Regions from separate parts of the Homo sapiens genome. Here region 2 is linked to region 1. Evidence: fine-mapped expression QTL. Tissue or cell type: monocytes after R848. Region 1 holds a variant in brackets; the other region holds the start of a gene. All regions are shown on one strand. Distances are from middle to middle.

Evidence for each region. PIP is the estimated chance that this variant, and not a neighbour inherited with it, causes the effect.
Region 2: it holds the start of SNHG15, and the variant in region 1 is fine-mapped to the expression of SNHG15 in monocytes after R848 (Quach 2016, PIP 0.95).

Annotation. Positions count from the first base shown.
Region 1 is chr7:45,117,235-45,125,336 of GRCh38, forward strand. No RefSeq gene overlaps it. Among named protein-coding and RNA genes, the nearest start is that of TBRG4, 9.6 kb to the left of the region's middle. RefSeq lists a silencer at 1,744-1,843 and an enhancer at 6,619-7,444. The variant C/T (reference allele first, on the strand shown) is at 4,019.
Region 2 is chr7:44,983,123-44,991,224 of GRCh38, forward strand. SNHG15 (small nucleolar RNA host gene 15) reads right to left here and starts at 3,574. Exons shown (of 3, transcript NR_152597.1): 1 at 3,403-3,574; 2 at 700-924; 3 at 1-200. It overlaps SNORA9 (small nucleolar RNA, H/ACA box 9), which reads right to left and starts at 2,388; the gene lies at 2,256-2,388. RefSeq lists a silencer at 1,966-2,146 and enhancers at 2,673-3,419, 3,265-3,384, 3,420-4,167, 7,819-8,102.

The sequences.
Region 1 (8,102 bases):
ACCCAAAGGCTAGTCTAAGGTCAGCCTGGCTCCCTGCTCTGGCCATACACAGCCTGTTCTACCCTGCTATCTATGTGGCAAACTGAGGCCCAGGGAGGGCAGGACTTGCCTAAGGACACATGGAGAGTGAGTGTCCAGGTCTTCTGCCACCAGCCCCAGGCCTCCCCCTGCTTCTGTGCCTGCCCGGGGCTCTGTCCCAGCTGGACTCAGAGTGGTGGGTCTTTTGCACCCCCAGCAGGAAACCCTCAGCAGGGCCAACAGTCCTGACCTCTGCCAACCCTTCCAGAAATCCACAGAACATCTCATCCATCCTTCCTTCTCATCCACCAAGAAGGCCACAGCACCCTCCTCATGCAGTGTGGTGAGAGGTGTGGTACAGTGTGCAGAGTGGGTCGTGACAGCCACAGCCCAGTGGACCCAGCCCTGTCCTGCACCAGTAGGGCCCAGCTCATAGCCGTTCCTGGCTTTCAGTCAACCTGGGCTCCTGCTCTGGAGGCCACTGACATTGAGTACCTGTGCTAACAGATGTGCAGGTGAGAAGGCCTCTGGGGGTACGGGTGATGGAGCTGGGAAGGGGCCAAGGTGGTCCACCTTATCAGAGTCCTGGGAGCTCCGGTGGCAGCTGCCATGAGAATGCAGTGGGAGATGGTGGAGTGGCCCCATGGATCTCTCTGGCATGGATGCTCAGCCTCTAAAGGGGGCTGTTTTACCAGCTTGTAAAATCTACCCAAGTAGGGTACAGGCTGGGCTGTCTTGGGGGAAAAAACATTAAAACTTAAAGCAGTGTTTTATATGGAAAAATATGAAAGGGTTTTTTTTTTTTTTTTTTGAGACAGTCTCACTCTGTTGTCCAGGCTGGAATGCAGTGGTGCGATCTTGGCCCACTGCAACCTCCGCCTCCCAGGTTCAAGCGATTCTCCTGCCTCAGCCTCCCAAGTAGCTGGTATTACAGGTGTGTGCCACCATGTCCGGCTCATTTTTTGTATTTTTAGTGGAGACAAGGTTTCGCCATGTTGGCCAGGCTGGTCTTGAACTCCTGACCTCAGGTGATCCACCCGCCTTGGCGGCCTCCCAAAGTGTTGGGATTACAGGCGTGAACCACTGTGCCCGGCTGGGACTATTTTAAAATATCATGTATTAATAAAAAATTTGAGGTTCATGAAGACTGATGGATCAGGAGATGATTGCCATTGAGAAGCTAGTTTATTACTCTCAGTTCTGGAGAGAAGGGCACATGCCACACCACAGGGGCCACATGGGAAAACACTGGGGTTGGCCCTGAGGCAGAGGAATGGGGCAGGGAGTGGTGGGCAAGAGCCTTTACTGTGGTTTCTGTGGGAAAGAACAGGTAAGGCAGGGCGACAGTTTAGGATTGGGTGGTTTGAGTAACTTCAGGGCCTGGAGCAGAAGGGCTGTCCCTCATTGTCTGATACCTGGCCCTGGAGTGATTAGAGCAAGTCCATAGTGGCCAGAGTGTGAGAGCCCCATAGAGGAGGTGTTTGAGGGTGTGAGCATTGGATTGGTTGGTTTGTGTTTGAAAAGTGTACCCTGCCCAGGAGGAGGACTCTTCCTGAGAGGTGAGGAGCTGATGAGGGAGGCAGAAGGCCAAGGCAAGGTGATTCAGGCCCATCATCAGGGTGCAGAACCAAGTCTGTCCAGCATATACATACAAGGCAGATGTTAAAGCATTGTTTGCAGAAGCTGGAAACATAGTCAATACAGGGGCCAGGGCAGGGTGAAACTTCTCTGTAGGGGAGGAGCCTCCAGCATCAGGGGATGGATGTGTCTCCTGCAGCCTAACTCTGAGCTGCAGGCTAGACAAGGTTGGGTGGTTCCAGCTGCCCAGGCTGGCCTCAGGGTCCCAGCATGAGCAGCAGTGCATGGAGGTGGTACGGCTCCATTTCAGCCCTGCCTCTCCCCAGCACCTGACCAGCATGGGAGGCTGAGTGCTGGGCCTTGGTGGGCAGGGACAGACGGGGATGGGGAAAGGGTATGTCCGCTGGCCTCCAGCCTGCAGGACCTCCTGGTAGCTTCTCCTTGAGATGGGGAGGGGCAGGCCTGGTGCAGCAGTATGCAGGGGTCCTGGCCTGGGAGAGCAGGCTGCTGGCTTCCCACCAACACAGTGCATCATTGACAGGGCCTCCACGGGACCTGTTGACCCACCTTTCCCATACCTGTGTCTCAGGCTGCTGGGCCAGGTGCCACAAGGTGACCATGTTACCTGCTGGTCCTCCTTTCACATAGATCTGGCCTCCTTGTGGCGCCCCCTCAGCCCACCCAAGTCATTCCTCTGATGAGAGGTTCTCTTCTGTGCTACACTCCCACCTTGTGCTTTACCAAATTCAGGGCCTGCCCCTCTCCCACCAATCCTGGTCCCCAAACACTCCCTGGCCTGGAGGGCCAGCCCACAGGCCCTTTCTGGTTCCCCTCTTTTTATTTAGAGAATGTGCAAATTTTTTGAAAAGCTAAGAGCATGGTACGGTGACTATCCATAAATCTGTCATCTAGATTCAGCAAGAATTTGGCCATACTTCCGTCTTCCTTCTTTATCCCTACCCCTGCCTCACCCCCGCTTGTTCTCACTGTACATATGTGTGTATGTATTTGTGTGTATGTGTGCATGCATGTATATGTGTGTGTTGTGCATACATGTATATACATGTGTGGGTATATGTATGTCTTGTGTGTACATGTATGTATGTGTGTGTGTGTATGTATATCACAGTCTGCTCAGGCTGCTATGACAGAATATTATAGACTGCATGGCTTAAATGACAGAAATTTATTTCTCACATTCCTAGAGGCTGGAAGTCCAAGATCAAGGTGGCAGTAGATGTGGTGTCTGGTAGAGGCTGTCTGGGCTGTCTTCCTGGTGTGCATGTGACCATCTTCTTGTTGTATTCTCACATGGCCAAGAGCAGAGAGAGAGCTCTCTGTGGTCCCTTTCCACTCGTGAGGGCTCCACTCTCATGATCTAATTATCCCCCAAAGGCCCCACCTCCGAATGTTATACCTTCACCTCACCTTAGTGGTGAAGATTTCAACATATGAATTTTGGAAGAGGAAGGATGAACATTCAGACCATGCAATGTAAGTGTTTATATTTGTGTATGTTTATAAGCATATGAATATAGGCATGCATATGCGTGTGTGTATGTGCTGTATATATACAATTCAAAAGTTTTCTTGGTTTGTTTGCTTGCTGAATCCTTTGAAAGTGAGCTGTAGGCTGGCCGGACACAGCGGTTCACGCCTGTAATTCCAGCACTTTGGGAGGCCGAGGCAGGAGGATCACGAGGTCAGAAGATCGAGACCATCCTGGCTAACACGGTGAAACCCTGCCTCTACTAAAATTACAAACAAAAAAAATTAGCTGGGCATGGTGGTGCATGCCTGTAGTCCCAGCTACTCAGGAGGCTGAGGCAGGAGAATTGCTTGAACCCAAGAGGCGGAGGTTGCAGTGAGCCAAGATCGTGCCACTGCGCTGCAGCCTGGGTGACAGAGGGAGACTCCATCTCAAAAAAAAAAAAAAGAAAGAAAGAAAGAAAGTGAGCTGTAGACATCACAAACTTCTCCCTTAAGCACTTTAGCAGCAAACATTGTCCATGTGACCCCACTGTAATTATCCTACTAGGGAAATTAACATTGATGCAATAAGGCCATCTGATTCAGGTCCATATCCGAATGTCCCCAATTGACCTTTGTCTCCTTAATCTCTATGATTGTTGTTGTTGTTATTTGTTTGTTTGTTTTTGAGACAGGGTCTTGTTTGGTAGCCCAGGCTGAGTGCAGTGGTGCAAACACAGCTCACTGCAGCCTTGACCTCCTGGGCTCAAGCTATCCTCCCACATCAGCCCCCCCAGGTAGCTGGGTCCACAGGCATGCACCACCACACCTGGCTAATTTTTGTATTTTTGATAGAGATGGGTTTTGCCATGTTGCCAAGACTGGTCTCAAACTCCTGAGCTCGAGGGCTGCCTCAGCCCCCAAAAGTGCTAGGATTACAGGTGTGAGCCAC[C/T]GTGCCTGGCCTATTTTTAATTTTTTTCACATGTAAGCCTTCCTGCACCACATTTCTTCCATGTCTTAGTATCACTCTCAACTCTGGGGTTTTTAGAAATTCAGCGTGCTGTACTCTGTCCTCGTCAGTACCCTCACGGCGCTCATGTGTGGCAGGCTCATGTGTCCCTCCAGCAGATCATCATTGGTCAGGCGGACGCCAGCACTCCCCTTGTGCCTTCTTTGCCCATCTATTTCTCCAAGGAATCCTGCTGCCTTTCAGTGGAGGATTGTTCATGAACAAAATCCAGGCACTAGTTGAACCCCTTCATGTGTGGGATGGTTCATCCCATTTCCCAAGCCCCTGACATGTCATGTGAACTCAAAGATGTATTGAGTTATTGAGTGAACACAGAGAGGCAATGATGGAGACAGCAAAGCTGAAGATGATGCAAAGACCTAGCATCTCAAACAGTCCTTGCACTCCTGGTCCCTGGTCCCTGACACCAGTGTCTTCTGAGATGGCCCCTGGTGCCCCAGACTCCCCACTTCACTGGTTGGGCCCTGCCTTCAAGACAGCTCTGGGTGCTCTGTTTTAGGGGGACCCTTCTTGTCCTTCTGCACATGGCTCTGGGGAACTCTTTTTGGGGGCCTTCCTCTCTTCCTGTACACATCAGCAGTGAGCAGGCTCTTTCTTCTGGGAGGCCCCTGTGCACCTCAAGGGCAGCAGCTTGGCCAGGACAGCCTGGTCCCTCTGTGTGCAACACCTAGGAAGGCCTGGCACTTATGGGTTAAAGGTCAGTCCTGCCTTCCTCCTCCATTCACTGACAGAGCATGATGATGGAGGTCTCTGTGGGCACTGAAGCCGTAGGGAAGTGACCTTACCAGGTCACATAACCAGTGAGCGTGGCTCTCATGGATGTGGGCTCCTCATGAGTGTGGGCTCCCGGAGAATCTAGGCTTGCTGTGAGTGTGGCTTGCTTGGGCCGGCCCTGTTGTTCTCCCTTGCAAGCTCTGAGGAGGCAGGGATGGAGGAAGCTGAGCAATATCTCCAGGTCCCACCTTCATCTCAGCCAGCCTGATGGTATGGGTCGTCTCCTTGACCTTATGTGCTGGGTCAGTGAGCCAAATGGGGCTGACCTCAGGTCAGGCCTGGGCCTGGGGCCCCTGGGCTCCTGCAGAAACCTAGGCAGGTGAGGTAGTGGACCCCTCCCTCTGGCTTGACCAGGGCCCAGCCTGCCTCCTATGTCCTGCCGGAGCACACACAGAGAGGACCCCCATTCAAAATGTCTCTGCTTTATCATGGACTCTCCCAAGGCTGTGGCTTCGTGTTTTCGAGGCTCTCATCTGGACTTGATCCAATTCGAGCCACTCCTCAAGTGCAGCCACAGAACACGGGGAGGCTGGTGATTTTTTTGAGTACAGCTCCTTTCTTCTTGCTGCTTAAGCTCAATCATTTGATTTTCTTCTTTCTGCTGAGACCCTTGGCCCCTGGTGAGCTAACTGGATTCCTCTCGACCCCCAAGCCAGGAGCACAGCCAGGGTGTAGAAAGTGTTTGGAGAAAGAAAATCCCACTAGAGGCGTTTTAGACAAATTTTTTCAAACATGTGAAAAAGCAGCCTAGAGTTGAGGAGAATAAAAACCCCTTCTTTCAAGTTGCCTTGTATACCGTGTTCAGCTTTTTTGTTGCTAAAAGATAATTTTCAAAAAAGGGAAAAATCATGACTCTTCTATACAATAGATACAAAGTGAACAAGGGACAAGAGATTTAATTTAACTCTAGAGGGATCAGGCTCAAACCAAAGAGCAGACACAGGTACAGGTTAGGACGATGAAACTGCTATACGAATGGAGACAGAACTGTTTCCTCTGTGTGAGAGTAAGTGTGCATCCTGTGTGCGACAGAGGGGCTGGAGCTTGGTGCCGACAGGCACTGGCCATTAGCGATCCTCCCAGCCGCTCAACAGGCCTGTGTCACTGCACAAGTCAAGTGCAGTTCCCTGGGGCCGCAGGGATCTGGCCAGGTGTGAGTTCCCACACAGCCATCTTCTTGGGTGCCTGATGGCCAACACTGTGGACCCTGAAATGACCAGCAGAGCTGCATGTCCTGTTGTGTGAGGCAGCCGTGTGTGGACACAGAGCTCAGTGTCTCTGTGGGGTGGTGACTGTCTTCCAGGGACATAATATTCTAAACACCCCTGACCTAGAGCAGCATCCACACTCACCCCACCCCTTCCTCTCACTTCCTTTGCACTTCCTGTAACCACACCTTTGCCCTTGCCATGCCACCGAAACTGGCCCAGGCCTAGGCAACCTCTGAGCTACCAGACCCCCACAGGCTCAGCTCCTGATCTTGTCCCCATGAGCAGGGCTAGCAACACCTCTGAAGGGGGTCAGCCCCGGGAGATCTGGCCAGTGTCTCCAGAACCTAGTGGAGAGGCCTTTCCTGGCCCAGAGATGCCACCATGGCTGTGTATTCTCACCAGAGGTCAGCCGCCTGTTGAGTGCACCTGGCTGGACTCCCCCACCCACCTGGACATGCTTATCGCCACGGGGTTTCCCTGTTCCCGGCCAGCTGCCTTGTCTGCCTGGAGCACCCAGGGATGAGGCCTGCGTTTGCTTCGTTCCTCCCTCAGGAGCCCGGGACAGATACACAGAAAGACAAACACATGAAGCTGAGTGGATTTTTAAATTAGCAGCCGTAGAAGGCATCATGCACTCTCTGGATCCAAGAGAGATGGTTTCTGTCGAGCAGACTTGGGTGGGTCACTCCTGGCAGCAGGGGCTCCCAGGGGAAGGTCTCTCACTGAGAGGTGTTCTCTGCAGGGGGGCACGGGGAACTCAGATGCAGTACAGAGCCCGGCCAGGGGGGTGGTGGGGAGGAGGGAGGTCATCCGCTGTCCATTGTTCATGTGCTAATGTGTTCACGCCCACAGGCCCGGGGACCTGCGCTGCTGGCCCCTTTGCTGTTGTGCAGGGGAGCAAGCAGAGCCCTGCACCCCACTGGCTTTCCCCCAGCCCTCACCTCGCCTGCAGACAGGTGGATGAGGCCACCCTCATATGCCAGAAAGGGAGTCCAGGTCATAGGTGGGCTTGGACGGTTAGCCCAGAACCCATGTTTGGAACCCCTGACCTAGAGCTCTCCCAATATTTGGGAGGTAAGCTGCTCTCTGCAGTGAAGTGGGAGAGGCACAGGCTTTGCACACAGGTCGAGCAGCACTGGGCCTGCCAGTCATTTGCCTCCCTGGGCCACTTTCACTCACTGACACTCACTCCCAGCCTGAGTGGCTTCCTTGAGTGCCTGGGGGCCTGCAGCTGGCATAGTCTGGGTTGGTGTGCCGAGCCCTATCTGCCCCCAGGGCCTGCTCATGGACTGCACCCACTTTCAAGGCCCCACTGAAGGCCCAAGCTGGCCAGGGGAAGCTCAGGGAGAAAGGGAACTCATACCTAGGACAGGGGCCAGACACTTCATGGCACAGCGGCTGAAGCGGCACTTCTTTTCTCCCTAACACCCGCCGTCCATGGAGCACTCACTCTGCTCCTCGCAGAGCTCTGGGCTCACTGCAGGCTGCACCCAGGGGCAGCTGCCAATCTTTGGGGCTGATACTAGGGGAGAGATGGGCCAGCCCTTCATCACCCAAAGCCCTTTTATGCTTCCCAGCCTTGCTGGGCCCACCTCCCAGGGCTCCCCATGCCAAAAATACCCATTTTATAAATGAGGAAGTTGGGCTGGGCGCTGTGGCTCATGCCTGTAATCCCAGCACTTTGGGAAGCCAAGGAAGGAGGATCACAAGGTCAGCAGTTCGAGACCGGCCTGGCCAACATGGTGAAACCCTGTCTCTACTAAAAAAAAAAAACTACAAAAATTAGCTGGGTGTGGCAGATACTTGGGAGGCTGAGGCACAAGCATTGCTTGAACCTGGATGGTAGAGGTTGCAGTGAGCCGAGATCGCTCCACTGCACTCCAGCCTGGGCAGCACAGCGAGACTCAGTCTCAAAAACATAAAAAAAAAATAAAAATAAATAAAATAAAAAATAAATGGGGAAGTTGAGCCTCTGTTCTGCTCTGGGGTCAGATGTGTCCCCGGGGCCTCCTTTCTGCTGA
Region 2 (8,102 bases), 130 kb before region 1:
GAAGCAGAGAACCTGGCACCCAAACCTAGGGCCAGAGGTCTGTCTGCCAGACCCACAGCCCAGGCCCAGAACTGGAAATTCCTGACTCCTTCCAGAAGGGCAACAAGCGAGGTTTCAAACTTGCTCAATTAAGGTGCCAAGGCTTGCATTCAAATTCAGCTCCACTCCTCACTAGGTGTATTAACACAGGCAGGCCTCATCTGTAAAAATGAGATGAGAAACACTTCAGAGACCTGTTGTGAAAATTAAGTGACATAATTGACACAACTAGGGATTATTACAAACCCCTGTTGCCATCGGTGGCAACAACAGAACTGAACCCTACTTACCAACTCCTGAACCCACTCCCACCATGAGCTGAGAGGCCTGTGACCAACCTCAGTGGCAGCCCATGCCCTTTCCAGGGGCTGAAACACTGGCCACTGACCTAAGGTAACTCCGGAGAAAAGACTATATATGTTGAAACCAAATCACAAAAGCAGTAAAATACCACCCTCAAGAATCAGGGTTCATGAGTCCAAACACTAGACAACTGTTTGTCCCAAAATAGTATTGTGAGCTTGAAGACAATGAACCTTTCTGGGATTCAATCACCTGACTTACCATACGGGAAGGTCAAAATACTTTTCATTAGCCAGGTGACTCTAAATAAAACAGGAGTGAAGTGACTTGCCAGGTCAGACCTTCCTGCACACTTACCCCTGCACAGGTTCCAAGGAACAGCCTGGCAGCCACTGAAGGTATCTTCTCTCAGGTCAGGTCCCCTCTAGCTCCAGCATCTTGGGATTGCTGCTGTAGAAACACTGACGGATGGCAGGCACTCTTGTGCCATGTGCTGGGTCAGGGACACAGAGTGAAGCCACTGGTGAGAGGTGGCTGTCAGGAACTGGCAGCTAACACGGTCGCCTCCCAGTTTCATGGACACTGGTAGAAAATACAAAATTCCTCGATTAGGGACAAGGGACCACTGATTATTCAAAACAATAGCAATAGCCAGAGCATCAGCATTTTCCACCACCCTCCCAAGCCCCAGTTCCCATAGGGGAGTCAGAGGCACCTGCATGAGCCATTGGACTACTACAAGAAAGGAGCGCAGGACTCTACCCTTTCACAACGCACAGCAAGAATGCCTGCCCTCTGCTCTGGAAGAAGGTACTAACCTCTTACCTTCCAAGGTGGTAGAACATGCTTGAAAAGATAGTAAGTGAAAAGGGGTAGCCAGTGCTTTACTCACAAGACTGCTTGAACATGAGACTCAAGGAGGGACCTCAGCAGGCCTGGGGTGTTCAGCAACTATTCCTGGCCTGAAAAGACAGAATCAGCTGAAAGCCTCTACCTTTAAGAGAGGTGACCCCACCACCCAGAGGAACACAGGAGCTGTGCTGCTCGTGCTATGCTCAAGCCAGCAACACTCTTCTCATCCCAGCCAGTCCTTTAACACACCTAACACCAAGACAAGAACTTGAAGGCATCCATCTCCTTCCCATCCAAACTTCCCACCGGCTTCTATATTCCACTCAGGATGCAGGGTTAGAGAGGCCTGGCATCAAACCCTGATCTGCTGGTTTGTGGCTGGGCAACCCTGGACACATAATTCTGACCTTGGGCCCCTCATCTGTACTGAACTTAAAAACGACCTCATGATGATACCTCAAAGATTTAAAACAATTAAGAGGTCTGGCGCAAAATAGGTGTTCAACATTAGCACCTTCCTCTTCCATGAGTTTTTCCTTTAAGATGAGCACACATTGACCTCACCCTCCACTAGCTCCTGGGGCACTCAGCTCCTCTGCAGAACTGAGACTTTGGTTCTCTTTGCTTTGCCTTGTAAATATCCTATTCCATGAGTCTCTCAGGGCAGGACTCTTCCCTGTTATTCCTCTTCACTGTTTCAACTCCTACCCTTACCACCACTCTTGGCTTCATCCTCAACTTTTATAAGACTTTTGCTTTAAGTGTATAATAAAATAAAATTTGTACTGAGCCTGGAGCACAGCAAACACTCAGGATTCCCTTCACCTTTCACACCAGCATTGTCCAAAACAACTTCCACAGCGACAGAAATGCCCTCTAATCTGTGCGGTCCAATATGGTAGCCACTGGCCACCTGTGGCTACTGATCATCTGAAATGTGGCTAGTGTGAAAATGAAATAAAACTCCAAATTTAATTTAATCATGTGTGCCAAGTGGCTACCACATTAGATGGCACGGATCTATACAAGGCCCAGGACACTAGATCCAGGAGGGAGGAAGTCATTGTCTGAAATTTCTATAACCTTGCTCTGGATGGAGCAGGGCAAGGCCTCAAACCGTTTCAAAACTGTTCTAGCAAGCACTGAAGGAATGCATAGGGTCACCGCAGACCCAAGCACGCTGGAGGCTTGCTACCCTCATTCACCCAAATCCCCCACACTCAAGGAATCTGGCAGTCCACTCTCACTAAGCACCAGTCCCTGCTGGGGGCTGTGGGAAGAGACCAGAGTTCAATTAGGCACCTGAGCTTGGTTCCAGGAGCCCAGAGCTACTAATGACTCTCAGGGAAAGATCCTTTCTGGCTGAGGAAGAAGGGAAGGTGTCTTGGAAGAGATAACCTTATTAAATTATTAAATAGATCAGACAACACGAACTAAACTTCCACATTATTCTATGACACTACAATTCTAGCATGGCTTTTCACTGTGACCAGAAACATCCTTATCATCATGTAGTTAATATAAATACTGCCTTTTCCCCTTCATTTTTTTCTCATGTATCTTACGGCTCAGAAATCACTTCTGAAGGAGTAAGTAGACCAGGCACATGAAGTAGATTTCATTTTCCCCATGAAATAATGGTTCAGAGAAAACGCAGGCCTAGTTCCAGGAAGGCAGAGTTGGGGTCTCTGCAACGTGATTTACCGGGGCATCTTGCAAAGGAGTTGCTGTGACAGTAAGCTCTTCCACTTTGAGACCGTCACCTCAGCCACGGCTCCCACCTAGAAGGGAACAAATGCAGTTAGCTCCAAACGCAGTTAGCTTCAGCTTGTGCCTCTGAACCATTATCCAGCTCTAGCTCCTTGCAACGCCTGGCCCACTCTACAGCCTCTCTTGCGGCAGGTCTACACGCCACCCCATGCCTTCCGGTGAGGTCCCTCCTGACCACACGTCCCATCCCACCTACTGGGGTCCACCCAGGTCATGCAGAAGCCCCACTTCTCGGCTGAAAGAGAAGCACGAGGTTACTCATCAAGTAATCCCCGAGTCTCCTCCGGGTAAAATGTTCCGAACGCGCTCAACCGCCTCTTGAGAGGAAGTAGCACGTGTAGTGAAGGCTTGGTCTCCAAGAATCACTGGTGCCCCCACTCACTGCGGCCCAGCCTCCCACGCCGCCCGCCACTGAACCCAATCCCCCAGGACCCCTACCTGGGCTCAGGAATGGTCAGGCAACACGTGGGGCCCAGGATGGCGGTGGATGACTAGACTGCCGAAGACCGCGCCGCTGCGACTACGAAGTACGGAGTACGGAGTACAGGTCTGCCAGCCAAGACTGACGCCGCGCGCTGCGCCGCGCACCTCGACGTCACCGCGTAGTCCCGCCCCGAAGCCGTGCGTGGCCGGGGCCACAGCGTTTGGGGTAGATGACGTCACGCGGCCGCGGGCGCTCGCTTGGTAGGGTGTGCTGGGGCGTAGAGTTTAGGGTCCTGAGGCTGCGTCTGCGTGTCAACTCAGTGGAGTCTCTCGACCGCCCTTTGTTACCCTCCTTTAGTGACCAGAAGGCTGGAGTTACGTAATCTGCCCCTACAGCTAAAAGGACGGAGGCCTGACGGCGTGGCCTGGAGGGACGCGCTGAGCCCCTAATGGGTGGTGCCTTCCTGGTGCGGCCGCACAGGCGGGGCCGGGCGGAATCCAAGCACGATGTGGACACGGAGCCTTGGGAATGAACAGGAGCCTGCCTGTGGGAGCATGTGGGAAAGGTGATGCAGGTGGAAGGGCAAATACAAATTATACATAGGGTTTAATTTTCCCTGAGGAAAAGAAGGGACGAGAAACCATCCCCCTCCCTTTTTCTTTCAAAATTTCAGCCTCTCTCCTTTCCAAATGTACTCAAGTCTTTTTCTTATATGGCCAGGTTCAACTCAGGAATGTTTCTTGGGAGCCATCTCCTTGAAGTGTAATTGTTGGCTGGGTGCGGTGGCTCACGCCTGCAATCCCAGCACTTTGGGAGGCTGAGGCGGGCGGATCACAAGATCAAGAGATCGAGACCATCCTGGCCAACATGGTGAAACTCTGTCCCTACTAAAAATACAAAAATTAGCTGGGCATGGTGAAGCGTGCCTGTAGTACCAGCTACTCGGGAGGCTGAGGCAGGAGAATCGCTTGAACCCGGGAGGCGGAGGTTGCAGTGAGCCGACATAGCACCACTGCACTCCAGCCTGGAGACAGAGCGAGACTCTGTCTCAAAAACAAAGAAAGAAAAAAATGCAATTGTTAAGGGACGAAAGGGCCAAGAGTCCAGCTTCTTAGGAGGACAAAGGCTTAACTTGGCACCTGACTCCAAATTGCAAAACCTACATAATGTGATGGGCTATCTCTACTTAGCTGCATAGAAAAAGTGAGTTTCTGTCTTTGTGTTGCCTTTAGCAGGTTGCATGTGATGTACGGCATCACAATCTGGTTTAATACTTATTCAGTAATGGTTTTCTGTCTCTTCTACCTTTGTGGAGAGGTTTCATGGGTTGGGAGGAAACTACTCTCCACCCCCCACCCACCCCCAGGCAGAGGAAAGCACATTGAAAGGTCCTGAAATTGGGAAGGACATGGTTTGCTGGTGATACAGCTAAGTATTACAAGTTTGTAGTGTTCTGGAAGGGTCTCAATGAGGAGCGGGAGATAAGGACGATGTGTTCAAGGGTCTTGAATGATCAGGCTAGAAAAGTGAGAACGTGGTTCTATAAGTAAAAGCAGAGCAGTGCTTGAAACTCGTATTTTATGTATTGCACCTAGTAAATACATTCAATCACTTTACAGTATACAAATCCCATACTTCACTAAGTGTCAAAACCCTAACAGACAGATAAGGCAGAACTGTTACTTCCAGATTACTAACGTGGAAACTAAGCCCCACCCAAACAAGTTAAGTGGTTTGTTCAAGACCTCCTACAACAGGCTGGGCGCGGTGGCTTATGCCTGTCATCCCAGCACTTTGGGAGGCCGAGGCGGGGAGGCGGGTGGATCACCTGAGGTCAGGAATTTGGGGCTAGCCTGACTGACATGGAGAAACCCGGTCTCTACTAAAAATACAAAATGAGCCGGGCGTGGTGGTGCCTGCCTGTAATCCCAGCTACTTGGGAGGCTGAGGCAGGAGAATTGCTTGAACCCAGGGGGCGGAGGTTGCGGTGAGCCGAGATCGCGCCATTGCACTCTAGCCTGGACAACAAGAGTGAAACTCCATCTCAAAAAAAAAAAAAAAAAAAAGGACCTCCTACAACAGCCAGGGCCTGGTGCAGGTTGTCCTAGCACAGGGTTCACTGGTCTGTCCATTCTGCCACTGCTATGAGATTGTAATGGCCCAACAGGTTCACCTTGCCTGCTGCCTAGGCAGAACCAATTTATCAAGACAGGTGAATTGCAATAGAGAAAGAATAATTCATGCAGAGCCAGCTGTGTGGGAAACTGGGACTTTTTTTATTACTCAAATGAGTCTCCCCAAGCATTTGGAGGTCACAGTTTTTAAGGATAATTTGGAGGGTGGGTGGCATCCAGTGAGTCAGGAGTGCTGATTGATCGGGTCAGAGATGAAATCATAGGGAATTGAAGCTGTCTTGTGCTTGAGTCAGTTCCTGGGTGGGGGCCACAAGATCTGATGAGCCAGTTTATCGATCTGGGTGGTGCCAGCTGATCCATCCAGTGCGAGGTCTGCAAAATATCTCAAGCACTGATCTTAGACTTCAGTGATGTTATTCCCGGGAGCAATTTGGGGAGGGTCAGAATCCTGTAGCCTCTAGCTGCATGACTCCTAAATCATAATTTCTAATCTTTTGGCTAATTTGTTACTCCTACAAAGGCATTCTGGTCCCCAGGCAAGATGGGGGTTTGTTTTGGGAAAGGGCTATTATTGTCTTTCTTTTAAACTATAAACTAAGTTCCTCCCAAAGTTAGTTCAGCCTACACTCAGGAATGAACAAGGACAGCTTGGAAGTTAGAAGCAAGATGGAGTTGGTTCGGTCAGATCTCTGTCACTGTCTCAGTTATAATTTTGCAATGGTGGTTTCAAGATGATGAAAGAGTACTGGGAAAGTAAATAGCTACGAAGGGCCAGAGAAGGTGTGTTACTGAAGAAAGTGGGATCTCCCAAGGGACTCAAAGAGAAGAGCTTTTTAACACAGTGATAACCCCAAAAAATTCACTAGAGAAGTGGGGGATGCGGCCAGGCGCGGTGGCTCACACCTGTATTCCCAGCACTTTGGGAGGCTGAGGTGAGCGGATCACCTGAGGTCAGGAGTTCCAAGACCAGCGTGGCCAACATGGTGAAACCCCGTCTCTACTAAAAATACAAAAATTAGCTGGGTGTGGTAGTGCATGCCTGCGGTCCCAGCTACTCAGGAGGCTGAGGCAGGGGAATCGCTTGAACTCAGGAGGTGGAGGTTGCAGTAAGCCGAGATGGCGCCACTGTACTCCAGCCTGGGTGACACAGCGAGACTCCAGCTCAAAAACAAACAACAAAGAGCCAGGCGTGGTGGCTCACACCTGTAATCCCAATACTTTGGAAGGCAGGTTAGGAGTTCAAGAGCAGGCTGGCCAACATGGTGAAACGCCATCTCTACTAAAAATACAAAAAATTAGCCGGGCATGGTAGCACACGCCTGTGATCCCAGCTACTTGGGAGGCTGAGGCAGGAGAATTGCTTGAACCTGGGAGGCAGAGGTTGCTTGAACCCAGGAGGCAAAGCCAAGTTTGTGCCATTGCACTCCAGCCTGGGCAATAGAGTGAGACTCTGTCTCAGAAAAAAAAGAGAAGGGGAGATGCTTACTTATTATCAAAGTAATTAGAGGCCAGACATCGTGGCCTGTAATCCCAGCACTTCAGGAGGCTCAGACAGGAGGATTGCTTTAGCCCAGGAGTTCAAGACCAGCTTGAGCAACATCACAAAACCCGTCTCTACAAAAAGTTTAAAAATTAGCCAGTCATGGTGGCGTCCGCTGATAGTCCCAGCTACTCAGGAGGCTGAGGTGGTGGGAAGATCACTTGAGCCCCAGAGGTTGAGGCTGCAATGAGCTGTGATTATGCCAATGCATTCCAGCTTGGGTGACACACCCAGACCCCGTCTCAAAAACAAAACAAAAAAAACAAAATCTGAAAGGATGCCAAAACATAAAAATCACATTATCAGTTTAATTGTGATTTTGCTGGGAAACTGCATGAGACTGGCACAAAGAGAGAAACATGACAGCAGTATTTTAACTGCTTATCAGAATACTAAAAATAACTTTCTTCAAACCCACATCTCAAATGAGTAATTCCATTGTTCTTCCAGGCCAACTAGTGACGCACGATATTTTTCTTCTTAGTTCAGCTAAAATCTGGGCTCTTGTCTCCCGATCAGGAAAAATTAGGCACATGGACACATTGAAGGGTCAGAATGTATTAAGTGAAAAGAAAGCCCTTAGCAAAGAGGTGGTCCTGCCAACAGGCTCCTACTCCACAGACTGAATATCAGGCCACCATACTGGAGCTGAAGAAGCCCGGCTCCCCTGCATAAAGCATGAATTCCTGGTGGCTCCACCCCATTTCCCCAGTGCACATGTAGGCCTCTAATCTGAGCCACTCCACACTGATTTATTTCCCTTACTGCACATGTGTTAAGGGATAGAATTTTTCACTGTAGGCATGTTTAGGCAAGCCCCCTGTGCATAATGACCTGGATGGCATTTGGCTGTCTCCCGCCTCTATCAGTAGCATATTTAGGGGAGGAAAGATGAATTTTCTTGCTACCCTTCTAAATTCTCAGCTAGAGTCCTTGTAACAAAAGATAGATTTTTTTTTTTTGAGACAGGGTCTCACTGTGTCTCCCAGGCTAGAGCACAGTGGTGCTATCATGGCTCACTGCAACCTCCACACCCCCA